4 linked regions of the Homo sapiens genome follow. The protein of the gene in region 1 purifies or fractionates together with the protein of each later gene. This does not show direct contact. Each region holds a gene or a part of one and is shown in the gene's direction. Other genes may lie near its edges.

What was found.
Region 2: the proteins of STK17B (region 1) and GPATCH2 purify together in Homo sapiens (affinity purification with mass spectrometry, with the first as the bait; one large-scale study listed by BioGRID). This does not show direct contact.
Region 3: the proteins of STK17B (region 1) and ADD1 purify together in Homo sapiens (affinity purification with mass spectrometry; one large-scale study listed by BioGRID and IntAct). This does not show direct contact.
Region 4: the proteins of STK17B (region 1) and ARK2N purify together in Homo sapiens (affinity purification with mass spectrometry, with the first as the bait; one large-scale study listed by BioGRID). This does not show direct contact.

The regions. Positions count from the first base shown.
Region 1 is NC_000002.12:196,165,079-196,170,027, reverse strand, and holds part of STK17B (serine/threonine-protein kinase 17B), read left to right. Parts: intron 1-4,293; exon of another isoform or gene 4,294-4,445; intron 4,446-4,949. UniProt on the Homo sapiens protein: Phosphorylates myosin light chains. Acts as a positive regulator of apoptosis.
Region 2 is NC_000001.11:217,616,828-217,621,776, reverse strand, and holds part of GPATCH2 (G patch domain-containing protein 2), read left to right. Parts: intron 1-1,277; coding exon 1,278-1,994; intron 1,995-4,949. UniProt on the Homo sapiens protein: Enhances the ATPase activity of DHX15 in vitro.
Region 3 is NC_000004.12:2,898,658-2,903,606, forward strand, and holds part of ADD1 (alpha-adducin), read left to right. Parts: intron 1-601; coding exon 602-778; intron 779-4,949. UniProt on the Homo sapiens protein: Membrane-cytoskeleton-associated protein that promotes the assembly of the spectrin-actin network. Binds to calmodulin.
Region 4 is NC_000018.10:46,239,348-46,244,296, forward strand, and holds part of ARK2N (protein ARK2N), read left to right. Parts: intron 1-657; coding exon 658-840; intron 841-4,949. UniProt on the Homo sapiens protein: AMPK substrate important for exercise capacity and skeletal muscle function.

The DNA.
Region 1 (4,949 bases):
TAAACTCATCTGCCTCGGATCCTCCTCCTCTGAGCAGATGCTCAATTAAACTTTTTCTAGTATCTTAATAATTGGAGGTATTAATAGATGTTTTATTTTTGAGATACATATTGTACATTTTAGATCTTTTTTTTTTTCTAAAGTAGGGATCCAAAATTGAGGTGAAATATATTTGCTTACATGGCAAGACTTTTTAAAAGTAGAATTTCTGTAATTGAAGACCATCCTTTTTTGTGTGTGAATAGAATGGTTGCGGTTTCTCTTGGGATCATTGATTAGTGAATTACGATTTGGTTAAGATAGAATGCGTTTTTAGGAAGTTGGAGGTTTGACTAATCGCTGTGTTAGCATATGAGTAACAAATTTGAAGAAGATACAAGCATTTTTATGGCTGACGTTTCTAATCAGATAATTTTATTTTTAAGCTTGCTCTGTTTTACTTTTGTTAAGTGAACATTTTAACATGTTTTAAAGCTCTTTGATAATTATAAGGGAGAATTTCCTTATGAAAATATTTTTGCTTTAATTTTAGAGACACAAGAAGTCAAGGAATTCAGTTAATAACACTTTCACTTAATCGTTAAATTGCCTTAAAATTGCATGCATAGTATATTGTAATTCACATTTTCTGTATGTAAGATTGGCAGTTAAGAATAGTATTCTGGCCGGGCGCAGTGGCTCAAGCCTGTAATCCCAGCACTTTGGGAGGCCGAGGCGGGCGGATCATAAGGTCAGGCGTTCGAGACCAATATGGTGAAACCCCGTGTCTACTAAAAATACAAAAATTAGCCGGGCATTGTGGCGCGCGCCTGTAGTCCCAGCTACTCGGGAGGCTGAGGCAGAAGAGTTGCTTGACCCGGAAGGCCGAGGTTGCAGTGAGCCGAGATCACGCCACTGCACTCCAGCCTGGGCAACAGAGGGAGACTCCGTCTCAAAAAAAAAAAAAAAAAAAAAAAAAATAGTATTCCTAGGCTTACTACTTTTAAAGGATACTGATTGATTCTTCTTTTCATAAAGAAATCTTCTGCACTGTATGGGTATTTGTTTTGTCAGAAACATTAGCAGTCATTTATCTACTACCTTTCCACTTAGGAAAACTTCAAATGTCAGTTGCTTTAGTTTTTCATAATATTGATGACAAAATTCAGTGATTTTATGTTTAAGTACTGTAGTTTGTATTCTATGCTGGGCTGTTATCAAAGGCTATTTCTTTGAATATTTCAGTTAAGAAATGTTCTTATAAAGTTACAAGCATGTATTTTTATTTAAATATGTTGTAATGTTGCAATTTTCAGGGCATACTTTATTAAGTTTTTTATTATCCTTTTTCCAGAACATTTAACCTCAAACTTCAGTGCCATTTAAAACATATATATTAGTTTCTTTTAATATTTATATGCATTGTATTTTGGTTCATCCCTGACCCTTTGCAATTACTCCAAAAGAGGGTGTAGTGATACTGTAAGCATTGAAAAATTTTAACAGTGAGATGGTAATTTCCTCTTTAATCCTTAAAGGCAGATTCCATTTTGCATTGTAATAGTTACTGAATAAATAGTACTTAAGCGGTGCTATTAAGTAAACAATATTTTACAACAGAAACCCAATTTTCCGTCTTGTGAGTGACAAGCACCATGCATTTGTTGCCCACCCCGGAATCCCCCACTCTATTTCCGTTTTTCAACCTTTTATCCTGGTTCACAATTAACAGGTTTAACTCTTTTTCTGGAGGTGGGAAGACACAGCATTAGGCCTTAGGGTCTTGGCACAGAGTCAGGCCTAGGAGTCATTGCCTGACACTTCAGCCCTTGGATAGTATATACTAGAATGGTTGGATTAGAGTTAGTTTAGCTGACTTCCTATTGTGATTTTTAGAGGATTAAGTTTATGAATTATATTTTCTGTTCAAAATATTTTAAAAAACAAAACCTGTTGGCAGAATACATATGAGGAATATAATCTCTTCCTTGAAATTGAAAATCATCATCATTTCCATCTTGATACCAATACTTCTAATCAATGACTAATTAAAAACACATACTTCTGCCACACCAGGAGAAAGTTCTTCCTTTACTTTTGATGGACGTTAAATCTCTTTTTCAGTTTCCTAGGGAAAGCTTGCTAGCAGTAAATGCCTTAAATGCCTATGTAGAAAGGAGTTGCTTCCCTTAGAATCTTCGGGCTTACTTTGCTTCCTGTTGCCTTTCCAATGTACTTCATGATGATCTAGACTTATCAGTGATAAATCTTGATAGGACACTTACCTGAATCTCCTGATTTTTGGAGGCTCTTAAAAGAGTGATGTTCTTAACTGCAGTAGGTATTTGTATTAGTAGCTTATATTAAAAACAAGTAGCCACCTTGTCTGGAAACAGTGGTAAAAACAAAAGGTCTATTGGCATTACATTATAGTATATGACAAAATAATTTTATCTGTGTTTCCAGACTTTGTGGCTACCTGTTTAGAACTGACATTTTGTAAGTGCAATTTAAAATAGTTACTTTATTTGTCCAAATGCTGAATTAAGCAGAGACTAGCTGCATTCAGAGCTCCAGTACTGTAAATTCAAGATGGATCTCAAGTTCTCCTAACCCCTCGAAGACATGAGATATACCTACAAATTCTTTTTTCTATATCTCATAATTCTTACAATTCAGTTCATCAAACATTTTTAAAATTCCTACCGGGTGGCAGATACCATGCTGGTTGCTTAGGCACAAAAGTAAAAGGATGCTGCCCTTTAAACACTGAACAGAATTGCAATCTAACATGTTACATTTTGAGGTAAAGAAGTATGCCAAGGATCCTCTTATTTGAAGCATAAAGGAGAAGCCTTTAAATCAGCCTGTGGTTTTTAGGCAAAGCTTCCTGGGGGAGAGGCCATTCTGTGTTGAGTTTTGAAGGATGTGTAAGAAGAGTTAGCCATTTAAGGAAAGTAGAAAGGCTTTTTCAGGCAAAGAAGTATAACAAAGATGTGGTGGCAAAATATGAAATATGAGTGCGGCAGGAAATGTAGCTGGTGTATACTTGGCCTCAGAGGCCTTTATGTGTCATGCTGTAAGTACTTGAAAGCTTGTAGATACTGGGGAGCTAATGAAGGAATCAAAACAGACAATTTGATTTTCTAAATGTCTTTATTATTGTATATTCTATTTTTTAAAAACTTTCTTATTTGATAATTTTGAAATAAATATCATGATAAATACTTTTTAAAATAGAGCTAGAGGTTTATAGAGATAGTCTTGCTTTTGTTCACATCACACTTGCTTTCTGCATTCAAGTAAGTGAAGGCCCAGATCAAGCCTAACATTTCCTTCTTTTCCTTCCTTCACTGATCTACTTCCAAATTCTTTTGGTAATTATTATAATGAGAATTAATGAAAAAAATCTTTAAAAATAAGTGAGATACCATTATTTGTAGTAGTACTGTGTGATTAAAAGCTTAATTGTGTCTTACCTTCTATTACACTTTTTATAGGATCTAATCGTGTATACACATGCATATAAATTTACTTACCAGGTCCCTTAAGATTTTTTTTAAATGCTATAACCTGATAAAATGTTATGAAATGAATTTCAAATGGAGTGAGACATATAGGTAATTTAGAATCGGTAATATGAAGTGTGGTAGAAGACAAGAAAAGGCCTGGGAATTGTTGGAGTTAAAGAGAATTTGGTGGGAAATTTAGGAAGATACAAGAAGGAGCGACAGAGAGCTGACTCATAACCTGCATGTACCTTATATGAAGGGCAACCAGATGTTTGAGGAGGGCTTGGTGGACAAAGGTGACATTCATGCTCCACTATATGCAAAACTGGCCAAAGGAGAGGAAATGGAAAAATATCTTGGCTCTGACAATTGGTTCAGATGCAGTAAATAAAAGGAAAATGAACTTAAGAAATGCTTAATGGATGCCTAAAGCAGCTTGTGATGTAGGTATATTTTTAATAAATAGATGAACTTATGAGGAAATTGGTACCCATATTGATCTTTCAGAACAATGGAAAAAAATCAGTGAAACTGAGCGCTATCAGAACTAAGAAGATACATAAGTAGTTAAAACAGAAAACAAAAATACTTTTAAGAATGAAGTTTAGACTAAGTTGGGATGAGAATTTTGTACATGGAAACAGTACAGCTGTTCAACAATGGCAGGGAACTGCAGGGAGAGTATTTTTGGGTAGAATGTTAATTTTGTTTTGTGGAACAATAGCGATATGCCCTTGTGACTTGCACTGTACCTGTGTCAGTGGACATGAGTTCAGCATATTTTAATTTTTAATCCTTGCAGCACTGGAAGATCAATTCTTTTATCATCCATACTTTAGAGGCAGCAAAATCGAAGCTTTCTTCACCAGTAAAAGGGAATGCGAAGTAAATCACAACAAAATTCCATTTCACCTTCATCACACTAGAATAGCCAAACTTAAAAGTCTGAATTGGGCAAGTATTGTCAAAGTAGTGATAAACCGTCCCATCCAGTGCTAGTGGGAGTGTAAACTGGGGGTGGAAAGAAGGGGCTATGTCTAATATGTTTTATTTTTAATTTAAATGAAATATGACCAAGTAATAAGATTGGAAAGTAAATGTTTGTATATAGTGTTCCTTATCTTACATTTGAAATATTATATATTTTGTTTTCTTTTTAAATAACTGTGTTGCCGCAGATCAGGCGACTTAACAGAAGTATATTTTCTCAACGATTCTGGAGGCTAGAAATCTGGGATCAGGGTGTCTGCGGGGTTGGTTTCTTCTGAGGCCTGCCCTCTTGGCTTGTAGATGGCTGCCTTCTCCTAGTGTGTTCACATAGTCTTTCCTCTGTGTGTGTCTGTGTCCTAATTGGCCCACTTTAATGACCTCATTTTAACTTAATCACCTTTTTAAAGGCCCTGTCTCCAAAGACAGTCACATTATGAGATACAGGGGTTAGGGTTTTTCAACTTAGGA
Region 2 (4,949 bases), on another chromosome or scaffold:
ATTAAAATGAAACGACAAAAGTTGAAAGCTGTTATAAGGAACTTGCAAAAGCCTGAAATTATTGACTGTTGGAGACTATACATGATTGTAGAGACTATATAGACTATGGGTCAGCAAACTATAACCAGCTATAACCTGATTCTATAAATAAAACTTTATTAGAACACAGCCATACCCATTTATTTATGTATTGCTTGTGGCTATTTTTGCATTATAGTGGCAAGTTGAGTAGTTTTGGGAGACCCAATGGCCTGCAAAGCCTAGAATATTTACTAGCAGGCCAGTTACATAAAAGCCTACTCCTGCTGTAGGCTCTAGAAGCTCTGTATGACTGTTGAGAATATTTCAATCCCTAGGTGCCTCTAGATCTCGATTTTAGAAATGATTGCCTGTGGTCTTCATAAGACGGGTGCAAATCTGAATTGCCTGTGATGTTTAAAAAATAAAACCAGATACCTTGGCTGTATGTCACCCCAACTAATTTAAAATCTTTGGGAATTGGGTTTTAAAAGGACAGGTATAATTTATAAAAATTCCCAAAGAATGCTTATGCTTATTCTTGCTGACTACTGGATAATTTTCATACTGGTAATATAGTTTAATGCTCTTAAAAAAGGAAAGCCTAAGAGATTGCTTCAGAATGAAGTAATGATGGGCCCTTTGAAACCAGTGAGGCTCCAATTTGAATGCGAATGTAGTTTGTGCTTCACTGGGTTAAGAGATTAGTGTGGCCTAAATAAATGCATGGTGTTGGTTAAACTTTCACGTATATTACTAATCCTGAAACTACCTGTCTGTCTTTCTAACTGCCTCTTATATGACAGTGACTGGTTAGGGCACGTGGTGAATAGAAGATTTCATGTTTCTTTTTTTACTTAGAGATTAGTGGGCGAAGAGGGGACTGAGAAAGTTCTTTCTGTATCTGCTGTAGGAAAACTGGCTCTAGAAAAGGGGTAGGAGTGGGCCAGCGGATAGGGATTTAAACAGAACTTTTCCATAATTATACAGAAAAATATAAAAATACTGGGATCTTTCATTGCTCATAAGCTTATTCTATCTTGGAAGTAATTCCTATGTTTAATAAAAGAACTTATATAAGAAGAGGCCTAAAATGAATCAATATTTAAAACTGTAATATCTTGGATAGGAAAATTAGCTTTGAAACATTTTGTAATCATTAATTTTTGTCGAATTTAGAATGAATTGTCTGTTATAGAAAATGAGGTTACTGTGGTTAAGACTGACTATTTTCTTTTTTCTTTCTCTAAAAAATGAAGGCATTTCAGTAGAACCATGGAGGAGCTGGTTCATGACCTTGTCTCAGCATTGGAAGAGAGCTCAGAGCAAGCTCGAGGTGGATTTGCTGAAACAGGAGACCATTCTCGAAGTATATCTTGCCCTCTGAAACGCCAGGCAAGGAAAAGGAGAGGGAGAAAACGGAGGTCGTATAATGTGCATCACCCGTGGGAGACTGGTCACTGCTTAAGTGAAGGCTCTGATTCTAGTTTAGAAGAACCAAGCAAGGACTATAGAGAGAATCACAATAATAATAAAAAAGATCACAGTGACTCTGATGACCAAATGTTAGTAGCAAAGCGCAGGCCGTCATCAAACTTAAATAATAATGTTCGAGGGAAAAGACCTCTATGGCATGAGTCTGATTTTGCTGTGGACAATGTTGGGAATAGAACTCTGCGCAGGAGGAGAAAGGTAAAACGCATGGCAGTAGATCTCCCACAGGACATCTCTAACAAACGGACAATGACCCAGCCACCTGAGGGTTGTAGAGATCAGGACATGGACAGTGATAGAGCCTACCAGTATCAAGAATTTACCAAGAACAAAGTCAAAAAAAGAAAGTTGAAAATAATCAGACAAGGACCAAAAATCCAAGATGAAGGAGTAGTTTTAGAAAGTGAGGAAACGAACCAGACCAATAAGGACAAAATGGAATGTGAAGAGCAAAAAGTCTCAGATGAGCTCATGAGTGAAAGGTGACTTTTATATTCTCTAAATATAAAAATATTTATCTCCAGTGTTTGTGGTTGAATGTTTTATATTTTAATTAATTCTATTTTAAAATAATTATAAATTGTAATAATGATAGTGATATTACTGTTTAGCTATGGTTATATTTCCTTATACTTTATGATGTTTAGCACAAAGCAAAATTGCTTGTTTGATTTACACAAAGTCTTTTGATTGTATTATAATGACTCAATTTTCAGCTACAAGGAGGAAAGGAAATGGATTTTCAGTGGAAAAGAATGTGCTTTTGAATAACAGCACGTTTGTAACTCAGAATTGGATATATAATTATATGTTTAATTATAGACCTTTAGCTTTTGGTACTTTATAGAGTGTCACAATTCATTAATCTATCCTGATTCTTGAACATCAAAAGTTTATACCACTTCGACATGTCTGTGGCTTGACATAAAAAATCTGGAGCTTTCTAGGAATTCTGATCACTTATGAATTTTAAAACCCAATTTATAGTCTAGAAACACCTGGTTTTGTCATTAGAAAAATAGGAAAAACAATGGTCCTGTGGTAGTAAATCTAATCTGTCAATAATTGTTAAGTACTATTTTGACAGCATCAAAAGGTAAGTGATCATTTTTCTTTTATACTGAAATGATGAAGTGATGCTACTTGCAAGAAATGAGAATGTATTAACACTTTTTCCTTTTAGGCATGGGTCCGCAAAACCGAATGCTGAACTATGAGCCAGAAAAAAACAGTCTGTAAATATGGCCTGAGAAAGAGTAATTGATTTTTAATTTATAGGGCTGCTATCTTTTTTTTTTTTTCGAGATAGAGACTCACTCTGTTTCCCAGGCTGGAGTGCAAGGGTGTGATCTCAGCTCATTGCAACCTCCACTTCCTGGGTTCAGGTGATTCTCCTGCCTCAGCCTCCGGAGTAGCTGGGATTACCTGTGTGCACCACCATGCCTGGCGAATTTTTTTTGTATTTTTAGTAGAGACGGGGTTTCACCATGTTGGCCAGGCTGGTCTTCAACCCCTGACCTCAAGTGATCCACCCACCTTGGCCTCCCAAGGGCTGGGATCATTTTAATCATGTGAATTGTGGTGAGCTATCAATCTTTTATTTGGTTTTTATTTTTTATTTTGTTTTTTTGGGGTTTTTTTGCTTGTAAATGAGTGGGACCTGGTAAAAGTTTATGGAATTATCCTTTTATTAGACATGGTGTGCTAGTCATATAATTTTTCTAAAGAAGTAAAAATTACTTACATTAAAAAATTGTGGCTGAGCATGGCGGCTCATGCCTTTACTCCCAGCACTTTGGTAGGCTGAGGCTGGTGGATCACCTGAGGTCAGGAGTTTGAGACCAGCCAGACCAGTATGGTGAAACCCCGTCTCTAGCAAAAATAGAAAAATTAGCCGAGTGTGGTGATGTGCGCCGAGTCCCAGCTACTCAGGAGGCTGAGGCAGGAGAATTGCTTGAACCTGGGAGGCGGAGATTACAGACATCCAAGATCGTGCCACTGCGACAGAGCAAGACTCTATCTCAAAAAAAAAAAAAAAAAAAAGTTTCCAGAGGGCTTTGAAAAGTTTATGGTATCTGTTTTTCTTGCAAGAAAATTGTCATTCTTATATGGAAATAAGTATTATTTGTATTAGGCCATTGTGACTTAAGACCATTCAACCTTACTTGAAAGTAATTGTCTGACTCAATTACCGGGAGGGAGAGTATGTGGCAGCTGATATAACATACTCAATTCTGGATTATTTACAATTAGATTACCTGCTTTTTGGATTCATTGTGCAAGCTCCCCCCCTTTTTTTTAGTTCTCCTTTTATTGATCTGCTTTTTTATAGGACATGTAACTGGTAATGGATATGAGATCAAACTCTCATTTTTCATTTCTTTTCATTGTAAAAAGTATTTGAGTATCTACTAGGCATGAACAGGCTACCTAGCAGTCCACAAACAGCCCAGGTACACGTTTTCAGAGTATGTTTTTACTCTTGAATAAATGTTAAAAAATATATTTTCTCTGATTTGAAACTTATTTATAAACTATTTTCTGTTGTCACTTAAAAGTTAGGTGCAAATTCCTTCTGTGCAAAGATTGCTAAATATTTAAGGTATTTTGGTAACAAGTATAAGCGTTTTCAAGACTACTTCCAAAGCTTTCCTACTACAAAAAGCTTTATATTTCCTTGGGGTTGATTTATAAATAAGAGAAACTTCAGTGTGGGGGGCTGTGTGTGTGTGTCAGATTTAACAAACATTGATGATTAACTACAATTTACTCTTCACTGGTGGCACCTGGACTAATAATGGAGACTCTGTTCTCAACAGCTGCATAGTCTGGGATAGCCAGGCAAGCAAATGATGAAAATGAAATGTGCTGAGTGGAAAGTATTAGTGAGGGAAGACTTGCTAAGGGAACTGTGCTTTAAAGCAAGTAGTAAGACTTGTTCAGGAATTGAGGAAGTCAAGAGAAGAGAGGGAAATGGCATTCATAGGTAGAGAGGGAGCAGCTTGTGCAAAGGCATGAATTGTGAAATGAAAATACATACTTTGTTTTTACCGGCAATAAAGTGGGATCAGAATTACAGCAAAAAGCATTTCTCAGAGGTCTATCTGCTATGGTAAATAGTTTGGATTTTATCATCTTATAGTCAATGGGATCAGTGAAGAATTTTTAACAGTGAAGAAACTCAAGTTGATTTACATTTTTTCAAGATAGTGTGATCTTTATAGCTGTATTTTGGTATTTTGTTTATCTTTGACCTCCAATCCATGCTTAAGTGGGAAGTGAATTACGATATGATAGCAGAGAGAACTAAGTATTTGAGAGTATTTGAGACCAATTTTAAGAGTTAGAATCGATGGGAGGTTGACTGACTATTTGGGAGGATGAATGAGAAAGAGGACTCTACGGAAAATATAGGAATTGAACAAATTGGGGCAAGT
Region 3 (4,949 bases), on another chromosome or scaffold:
TCATGGATTTGGGACTTGATCAGGACAAATGCTGTTTCACTGATTGAAGTTGGCAAAGGATTACTGGGCTTTTCATTTCTAATTTTTAAATTTTCAAATATGTCAGTCACTACCATTTATGGAGTACTGGTGTGTATAGGCCTGGCATCAGGTGCTTAGTGTGTGTCATCGCATATGTGATGTCACGTGACCCCCACAGTACTCTTTGAAAAAGCAGGTATACAGAAGTAGAGACTCAGAGACTTGCCTGCAGCTTACAGCTGTGAGTTCCCCTCCGCTCCGTCAGCCGTTAGTTCACGTTCTCCCCTCTGCTTCTTGACTTATGTCTGTGGCGTAGTGAAGTCCCAAGTCCTTTGTAGGATCCTGAAAGGTGCTGTGTTTTCTCATTTCTCTGCCAACTTTGGTGCCCAATATTTTTGTCATGCTAAAGAAATACTTCTGAAAGTAACTTTGTGATCAGTCTGTCACTATCCATTCTACATTTTTTATTCTTACACTCTAGAGATTTGGTTTCTTTTGAAACCTACATTTTTATTCAAGTCATCTGACCCTCTTGATCTCAGTAAGGAACTCAAGCCATGCTGTGTGTGTTTTGGAAAAGGTTCGAACTCTGGCCAGTGCAGGAGGACCAGACAACTTAGTCCTGCTGAATCCTGAGAAGTACAAAGCCAAGTCCCGTTCCCCAGGGTCTCCGGTAGGGGAAGGCACTGGATCGCCTCCCAAGTGGCAGATTGGTGAGCAGGAATTTGAAGCCCTCATGCGGATGCTCGATAATCTGGTAAGAATGGTGCCACCACTTGATGATAAACCTTTTGTTCTAAAAGCATCAGTGTTGGTGTTCTTACAGCAAGTGCGATTGCTGTCTTTTATGCAGTATCTGAATACCTTCACCTTCAAAGTCATGAAGAAGCACTAGGGTTGTTTAACTTCTGAGGTAAATTACAATAAAATGTAGAGGTGAAGGATTCCTGGTATTGTTTTATTTTTTAAAGATAACCTTGTGTTTGGACTCAGTGGGGACAAGAGCACAGAGAATGCGTAGGCAGCTGGATGACCAGCTGTGTCAGCTCAGTCCCCACCATCCCACAAGCAAGCGAGAGAGGTGGCACTTTTGAAATCGGTCAGTCAGGTATTTAGGCTTTTGTCTTAACAGCAAATCCTGGCTGTCTGGGGCCTGATGACTGTGTTCCATGGGTATCCACTCCCTGTCCACAGCGTGGGAGCCCCTCAGCTGCTTATTGCAGGGACACAGAGCCCGGCATGGTCCAGAAGGCGGGCTTATGGGGCCTGCAGCACACAGGGAAAGTGAGCCCACACTGTGATAGGAGGGCAGACACACAGGATGTGTTCTGTGTTACAGGGTTGCCGTGAAGAATTTCATTCTTTTGCAAGGACTGGAGAGAAAATTTTATGTGGAAGGTAGCCCTTGGAAATGACCTCAAAGAATAGGTAGGATCTTAGCCTGCGTTTGAAAGCCTGGAAAAAAACAGGATGACAGGATGAAGAGGCCACAGCACAGCTGCAGACAATGGGAGTGGGGAGATGGGAACATGCAACGTACGGTGCACCTTTCAGGTTCATCTTGACTTTACCAGGATCATTAAATACTCAGTTCTTAGAGCTGTATTAGAACACTGCCCTTGGGGTCTCAGTCCCGCAGCCACATCATCAGACACAGGGCTCTGGAACAGATCCCTTCCATGCTGCACATCAGACCTCTTAGATGGGGGTCACGATGGTCCGTCCTAACGCCACATGACCTCAAGTGGTGTAGATGTGAGGACATGTCAGTGTGGGGAAAGAAGGCCTCAGAGGGGCCAGTATCCTTGTATGCTGCCAGCCAGTACTGGACAAGTGGGCACGTTCCAGCCTAAGACAGGCGTGGCCCTTGGACCAGATCACAGATGAGATGGGTGGCTTCAGGAAGCAGGGTGGCTTCAGGAGGCAGGAAGTTTAACTTTCCTGAAGGTTTGGAATAAAAAGTATTCATAGGTCTGATTCAGGCTATGTTAAATGTTCTTACTGAAATTCTTTGCACTTGGGATGAATATTGTCCGCTAGAAAGGAGGAACTGAGGGTTTTCTGCCTGGGCGCGATAGTCAGTCAGTGGAGTAGACTCAATCAGTGACACAGGGACGAACAGAGAAGGCAGAGTCTAGCGTAACTTTTTGAGTTCATATAATCAGTGAGGTTGATTGCATTAATTGACTGTCTACTGTTGAGTCATGAACAGGACACAGTTCTTGCCCTCAGGAGTTTATGACCTAATAAGAGAGATGGACAAACGATTCCCAAATGAGCCCTGCCCCTGTGATCTGTGCAGTCATAGGCATGATGAGAGCTTGCAGGCAGAGGTGGGTGCCGATTGGTCAAGGAGGTAGGAAGAGGAGCAAAAGCTCATGAAGAAGGCTGAAGAAGCAGTTAGAGTTGGGTGGCCAGCCAGGGTAGTGAAGCTGCAGGGACTCATAGATGGAGAAAGCTTGAGAGTGGGGCAGCCATGGCCCAGGTGTGCGTCAGGAGCCAGGTCATCCAGCATGGCTGTGCAAGGTAAGGAGGGCTGAGGTTGGCCCAGTCACACAGCCCCTGCCTCCTGGTAAATACGGCGACATTTTGCTGCTCTTCTACTTACAGTCAGTGTGAGGGAGGAGAGAGGGGGGTCAGAATGCACAGCAGCCACCAAAGACTGTGCTGAAAGCACATCCTAGAAGGCGGAGAGGGGGAAGTCAAAATCAGGTAGAAACTCTGATTTGGTAGGGAAGGAAGATAAGGATGAATGATTAATAAGTAAAACATTCATTACAAAAAGCATGATGAATGTTTACTCAGTGTCCTTAATGTGTACAGATTGTTTTAATATTAGAAGGCCATATAGTTTATAAGAAATAAACTAGACAGCAATCACTAATCATAGTCCATGTTTTAATTTAGCATCGGGGTTGGCATATATGTTGTTTGCTAATAACTGAGTAGAGAATAGTTGCCAATTTCCACACTATAATATATGTTGCAGCCGAGCACAGTGGCTCACTCCTGTGATCCCAGCACTTCAGGAGGCTGAGGTGGGAGACCAGGAGCTTAAGACCAGCCTGGGCAACATAGCGAGATTCCTCTCCACAAAAAATAAAAAAATTTCAAAAAGAGAGATAATATTTCATTTGAACTTCTACAGTTAGAAAAAAAATGCTAAATTGTCCCCCCCCCAAAAAAAATCAAGATATAATTTCAGTTTCTCAAAGAAGGAACAAATCCATATATATTTTCTCTTTCTTTTTTTTTTTGGAGAGACAGGATGTCATCATGTTGCCTAGGCTGGTGTTGAACTCCTGGGCTGAAGCAGTCCTCCCACCTCAGCCTCCCAAAGTGCTAGGATTATGGGTGTAAACTACCACGCCTGACCCAAATCCATGTTTTTAACTACAAGCCAGATAGTAGTTCTGAGGTCTGAGTATTACTTCTGGTTTTGGTTTAACAGCATTTAAAGGGGAAGAATAAAGAAAAATCCATATGGTTTCAGGATAAAATGATGTTGATGAGTCCTGGGTGGTTTATTCTGAAGTTGTGGAGATTACTGAGTTCTGGCTCTTTAAGCAAAAGGAAACTTGAATTAATAAGAACTGTGTTTTTCTGCAGATAGTCTTTATGGCAGAGTCATTCTCTTTTATTATTCCTCAACAAAGCATGCTCAGAAATGGGAAAACTGCCAGTACACACATTTACCTTATCTTTCTGAGGACAATTATGAAAATAAAACCCAAAACAACTCCATTCATGATTGTTATTACCTTTTTAAAAAAATGTAGGCCGGTCACGATGGCTGATGCCTGTCATCCCAGCACTTTGGGAGGCCAAGGCAGGTGGATCACCTGAAGTCAGGAGTTCAAGACCAGCCTGGCCAACATGGTGAAACCCCTTCTCTACAAAAATTAGCCAGGTGTGGTGGAGGGTGCCTGTAATCCCAGCTACTCGGGAGGCTGAGGTAGAAGAAGCACTTGAACCCGGGAGGCAGAGGTTGCAGTGAGCCAAGGTCGAGCCACAGCACTTCAGCCTGGGTGACAGAGCAAGACTCCATCTCAAAAAAATAAAAGGAGGCCGGGCGTGGTGGCTCATATCTATAATCCCAGCACTTTGGGAGGCTGAGGCAGGTGGGTCATGAGGTCAGGAGATTGAGACCGTCCTGGCTAATACAGTGAAACTCCGTCTCTACTAAAAATGCAAAAAATTAGCCGGGTGTGGTGGCACGTGCCTGTGGTCCCAGCTATTCAGGAGGCTGAGGCAGGAGAATAGTGTGAACCTGGGAGGCGGAGGTTGCAGTGAGCCAAGATGGCGCCACTGCACTCCAGCCTGGGCAATGGAGTGAGACTCTGTCTCAAAAAAAAAAAATTAAATTAAAAAAATAAAAAAAATATTGAAAGAGTGATTAGTAATGAAGATGGCCCCCAAAAAAGAGCAGTACCCAGAGGGGAGAGAGAATTCTGAATTGAGAGGACTGTTTCTAGAGTACCACAGCCAGCAGGGCACAGGCCACTGAAGTGTCTTGTATGTCTGACCCTGTGCAGTCCCTCCAAGTCCTGATTCTCTTGTGATGTATTGTGAAGGTGCTGTGAGTGACTTGGTTCAGGTGCGAATCTGTTAGGTTGTTGAGCAGACAGCTCTTCAGCATCCCCCGTATTACCTCTCTGTGCTGGGCAACAAATCACTACAGGCCTGGTGGCTTCGAACAGCAGCCATTTATTTCCTAGCTTCTGTGGGGCAGGAGTCCAGGCACAGCGAACTCAACCTAGGGTCTCATAAAGGCTGCATTCAGGGTGTTGGCTAGGGCTGGGTTCTCATCAGGAGACTTGACTCAGAGGATCCACATCCAGGCTCTTCTAGACTGGGGACAGAATTCCTTTTCTTAGGGCTGAAGCATTCTTGGCAGCTTTACTTCTTCAGAGCCAGCAGTAGAGACA
Region 4 (4,949 bases), on another chromosome or scaffold:
GGAAATAGAAATATCCCTCATAAGATATCCAAAGCAAAATCCTGAAAATGGATTTGTTGTATTGTCTTTTTACAGAATGTCATAAAGTGTATAACATCCCTGTTTTTATAAAAGGACTTTACTGGAAATAGATATGTTAGTCAAACAGAGCTCTAGTGTTAACCTTATTTCTTTAGGACATAGGAAAATATATTTGATTTTCTTTTCTGAATCTACTAGAGACTTTTTATATTACCCAGTAAGAGAAAGAACTAGATTCATTCTTTTAAAAAATATAAATTGGGTTTTAATAATTTGCATCAGTTTTTTCCTTTAAGAAATCAGTTCCACTTTCTCTGTGGAGTCATCCTTTTTTTCTTAATCTTGCTCTTTAAAAGTATGACAGGAATTCAGTGTAACATTGTTGAGTATAGTCTTGTCTTCTGTTCTTCATAGTAACACTCCTTTTCCTCCTTCCAAAATGTGTCCATCATCTTTGTAAGCTTGGATTATCTTTTTCACTTTCACATTTTGTACAAAATATTAGATCTATAAAGTGCAGCTTTTCTGATGAGATAGAATAATGAAGGCAACTGACATTAGAGGGCTCTTACTAGTTTCAGAAGTATTTTTCACCCCACACGTTAGATACAAGTATACATTTTCTTTCCTCCCTAGATGGACCTCCAGTTGTAGCTCATTATGATATGTCTGACACCAACTCTGACCCAGAAGTGGTAAATGTGGACAATTTATTGGCGGCTGCAGTAGTTCAAGAGCACAGTAATTCTGTAGGCGGCCAGGACACAGGAGCTACCTGGAGGACCAGCGGGCTTCTAGAGGAGCTGAATGCAGAGGCAGGTTGGTCTTCCCCATCCCCCTTCTCTAACGGTGTAATATGCATGTGTCCTGGAGCTGTTTTCCTTGTAGTGGACCCTGATGAGGAGAACAGGTCATACCAGAGACATCTGGCATTGAATGATTGGTTGTGACTATCCAGGCTGCCATTTATACCTGAAACAATTTGGATAGCTTGTCATTCATCTTTCCTACTCAGAAGGAAGTAGAAATAAGAGCATTTAAGACATTAATTGTAGGTATTGGTAGGTTTCAGTAGGCATATTTCTTGGATTAAAAATGCCCAATATTTGCAAAAATGACCCAGATATGCTCATATTCTTTGGCCAGTTCTTTCTCTCACTTTAATTCTGGGTAGTGACCTTGCAGCTTGGATAGGGAATCGTTGAATCTCTCCCTGTGGGGCTGGCTGTTCATACACAGCGCTGCCGCTGTTTCTTGTGCTTCTTGCTGTGGAGTGACCCTGTTAATTCCTCGTCAGTAAGTTCTCATTTGTCTTTTCTAACTCCTTTCTTTTAGTTTCTGTCTCTGTTAGCTCAGGAAAAAAAATCTCTGTCCCTGTCTTACATTTTTTTAGTTTTGTGATTATTCTTTAAGGTGGTATTTATTCACTAAAAAATCCACTGCTGTTACCTTTGAAAAACTTTCACAATACCTCCAAGTCTTCTTCAATATTTTCTTCAAAAGTTTCTTTCAGCATTCTAATTTAAACCTTGTTTTGTTGTTGTTGTGAAAATACTAGCACTGAACATTTAAGAAGAGAAGGGGATTGAGAGACTGCTTATGCAGTGTATAATTTCTTCAGTGTTGCTGAAAGATTATAGTTTTCTAGTTAATTTATAAATGCATTGGTTTTATGAGTTAATCTAATAGTTTAATCACTACCTAAAGTTATTTTTATGAAAAATGAGTTTTACAAAAAAATGAGTTATAGTTTAGAACTTTTTATATTGAGACAGAACTCCATTGATTGTTGTTGTCTTAAATTATTCCTTTCATAATCTTTGATTGGAATTACAGAAAAATCACTTGTTTGTTGACCTGATTGATTTACTGTAGCTAATTTTGGAACTGAACCTGAATTTAGTTTTGATTTTTTTTGACTGGTAACTGCTGCCTGTTTGTCCTTGGACCAGTTGTTTCTCCTCTGGACTTCAGTTTTTATATGTATAAATCCTTGTTTTGCCCAACAAGTGTCTTTTAAGGATTTATTAATATGTATTAATACAAATACTTTGAAAAGAAGTAATAATGCTTCTGGGCACAGTGGCTCACGTCTGTAAGCCCAGCACTTTGGGAGGCCGACGTGGGAGGATCACTTGAGGTCAGGAGTTCAAGACCAGCCTGATCAGCATGGTGAAACCCCGTCTCTATTAACAATACAAAAATTAGCTGGGCGTGATGGGTGTGGTGGTGGGCGTGGTGGTGGGCGCCTGTAATCTCAGCTGTGGAATTGCTTGAACCTGGGAGGCAGAGGTTGCAGTGAGCTAAGATTGTGCCACTGCACTCCAGCCTGGGTGACAAAACTAGACTGTATCCCCCCAAAAAAGAAAAAAGAAGTAATAATGCTTTATATCAGTGGAAAGTAGTTTGGCCACATTTTGTACAATATGTGTTTCTAAGTTATTTATTTATTTATTTATTTATTTGAGATGGAGTTTCGCTCTTGTTGCCCAAGCCAGAGTGCAATGGCGCGATCTCAGCTCACTGCAACCTCCGCCTCCTGGGTTCAAGCGATTCTCCTGCCTCAGGCTCCTGAGTAGCTGGGATTACAGGCGCGCACCACCACGCCTGGCTAATTTTTTGTAGAAATGGGGTTTTACCATGTTAGCCAGGCTGCTCTGGAACTCCTGACCTCAGATGATCCGCCTGCCTTGGCCTCCCAAAGTGCTGGGATTACAGGCGTGAACCACTGCACCCAGCCTTGTAATTTGTATATTAGATGGTTTATCTTTGTTTTTCATCCTTTGGCAATTAAGTCATCCATTCCACTTCAGTTTTATTTCTCTGTTTTCTGAGTCTTGCCGTTAAATATAGACCATTTTATGGTAAAGTTTTGGGGTAAAAAATGAATGATTACCAACGTTTTGCTCTTCATATGCAGAATTCTTAATATTAGATTGAACCGTATGGAATTGTTAATATTTGACTTTTTGACCTACAAAAAATCAGCCATTTCTTATGACTTGACCGAATAATGCAAAGTTTGCGGTTTTAAAATATCATTAAAGTTTAGCTTTTGGGATGGCATTCACATTTTCAGATTCAAGTAATTGTTAGCCTATTTAAAAATCACTCTTAAGAAACTACAACCATTCTTTTTAAGAAATAAAACGTGGTAAAAGTATGTGAGGAGGAAAACAACTGTGGCTTCAGATGTTTTCCTTCCCTTTGCCCTTCCCATGCCAAAGCTATCCTAAATTGGATATTTAATGTGTGGTATTCCTGTGTATTTCTTTATATATTTGTACTACATTTGTTATATATCTAAATAAGCATGTTTTTAAAACTAATTGGTATCACATTGAAGGTAATCATTTGAAATGTGCTTTTTTAGTTAAACATTTTATGAGTTTTGTTGTTGTTATGTGTGGCTCTAGTTCATTCATTTTCCACTGCTATTTAGTATTCCACTATATGAATATATCACAATTTACCCATTCTCTTGTTGGACATTTAGGGTGCTATTTTAAGTGATACTGCTCTTAACATTTCTTTATGTGTTTTTTGGTATATGTATATGATAATTTCTCTAGGATATAATTAATATATAGAGAGAGCATTTGTGCATATTGGACTATAAATTTTGTGTAGGTTTCTGTATATCATAGGATGCAGTCACCACTGCTCAGCAGATCCCCATGACATTTTGTTATGAAGCTTATTGGCTCTTTCAAAGGCATTTTTTTTTCTTAAATCTGACAATACTGGTATGTGGGTAATAAATAAAAATAATACTGTAGTCTTGATGTGATTATCATAGTGGAACTCATCTTGTGAAGATATCTGAATGTGCTTACAGTGTCTCAATAAAATATTAATAGAATTTATGCTTAGGAGCCAGTTAATAGTTTTGAGGCTTGGACTATTAGTCAGATGGTCATTCTTATGGTGTGAGTGTAAGTTAAAATTTTAATGGTTAATCTGGGTCCTGTCTTTCCCTTTCACAACAAAATAGCAAGCCTAGTTATTGAGCAGACTATTCAGGGGTTCACTTTAATCAACAGCAGCATCTCAACCCAGGTCCACAGCCCCATCCCATTTAGGATCACATAGGTACGCACTAAAGATAGAGTAGGTTGCCTTTTTCCAAGCAATTAGATGATTATCTTGCATCCAAAATATATATTTAGTTTTAGTTTTAACCTAGGCAAAAGACTTGAACCACATGCAGGGATTAAAAAGTAAGTCGAAATTAGAGAAGCTACTGATCAACAAAAGACCTGAATTTTCCATTTCAATTCTTGCCATGTGTTTGCTTTTTTTAAGTTGATGCTGGAATTGAACACTGTAGTGGGTGATTTTGAACCAGTGGCCACTTAGAAACTGCATGTCCTCAGGTAAATTATATAAAGCCTCAGTTTTCCCTATCTACAAAACTGGGGCACAACCTTTATAGTATCTACTCCAAAAGGTTATTGTTACCACTAAGTGAAATACAGTGTGTTTACTACGGAGGACAGCACATAGTAGGCCCTCAGAAATGCTAACCAGCATTATGTTAATATGCTGAAGTAGACTGAGTAAGGAAGTGATTAGTGGCTCAGTCACTGGATTTCTAATTACTCTCTTGCACTGCAACGAGTTGCTCTTGCTACAAGTACTTCTTAAATTTTGCCAGAGCGTAGAAATTACCCAGTGTGTTTATAAATATTCACACTCCTAGGTTTCTCCTGATGATTCTGTCAATAAATCTGAAATGGTTTCTGGGAATCTCTTTTTAATAATAGCCTCAGGTAACTCTTGTATCCAGCATGTTTAGGAAACTGTATTAATATATCTGAAAATGGCTTCATTTTTGTTGCTAGTAAGGGCTCACTGCAAACAAATGTAGTTGGGGCAAGAAGAAGCAGAAGTCTTGGTGAGGAAGGCTTATAGCTGTGGTAAACTGA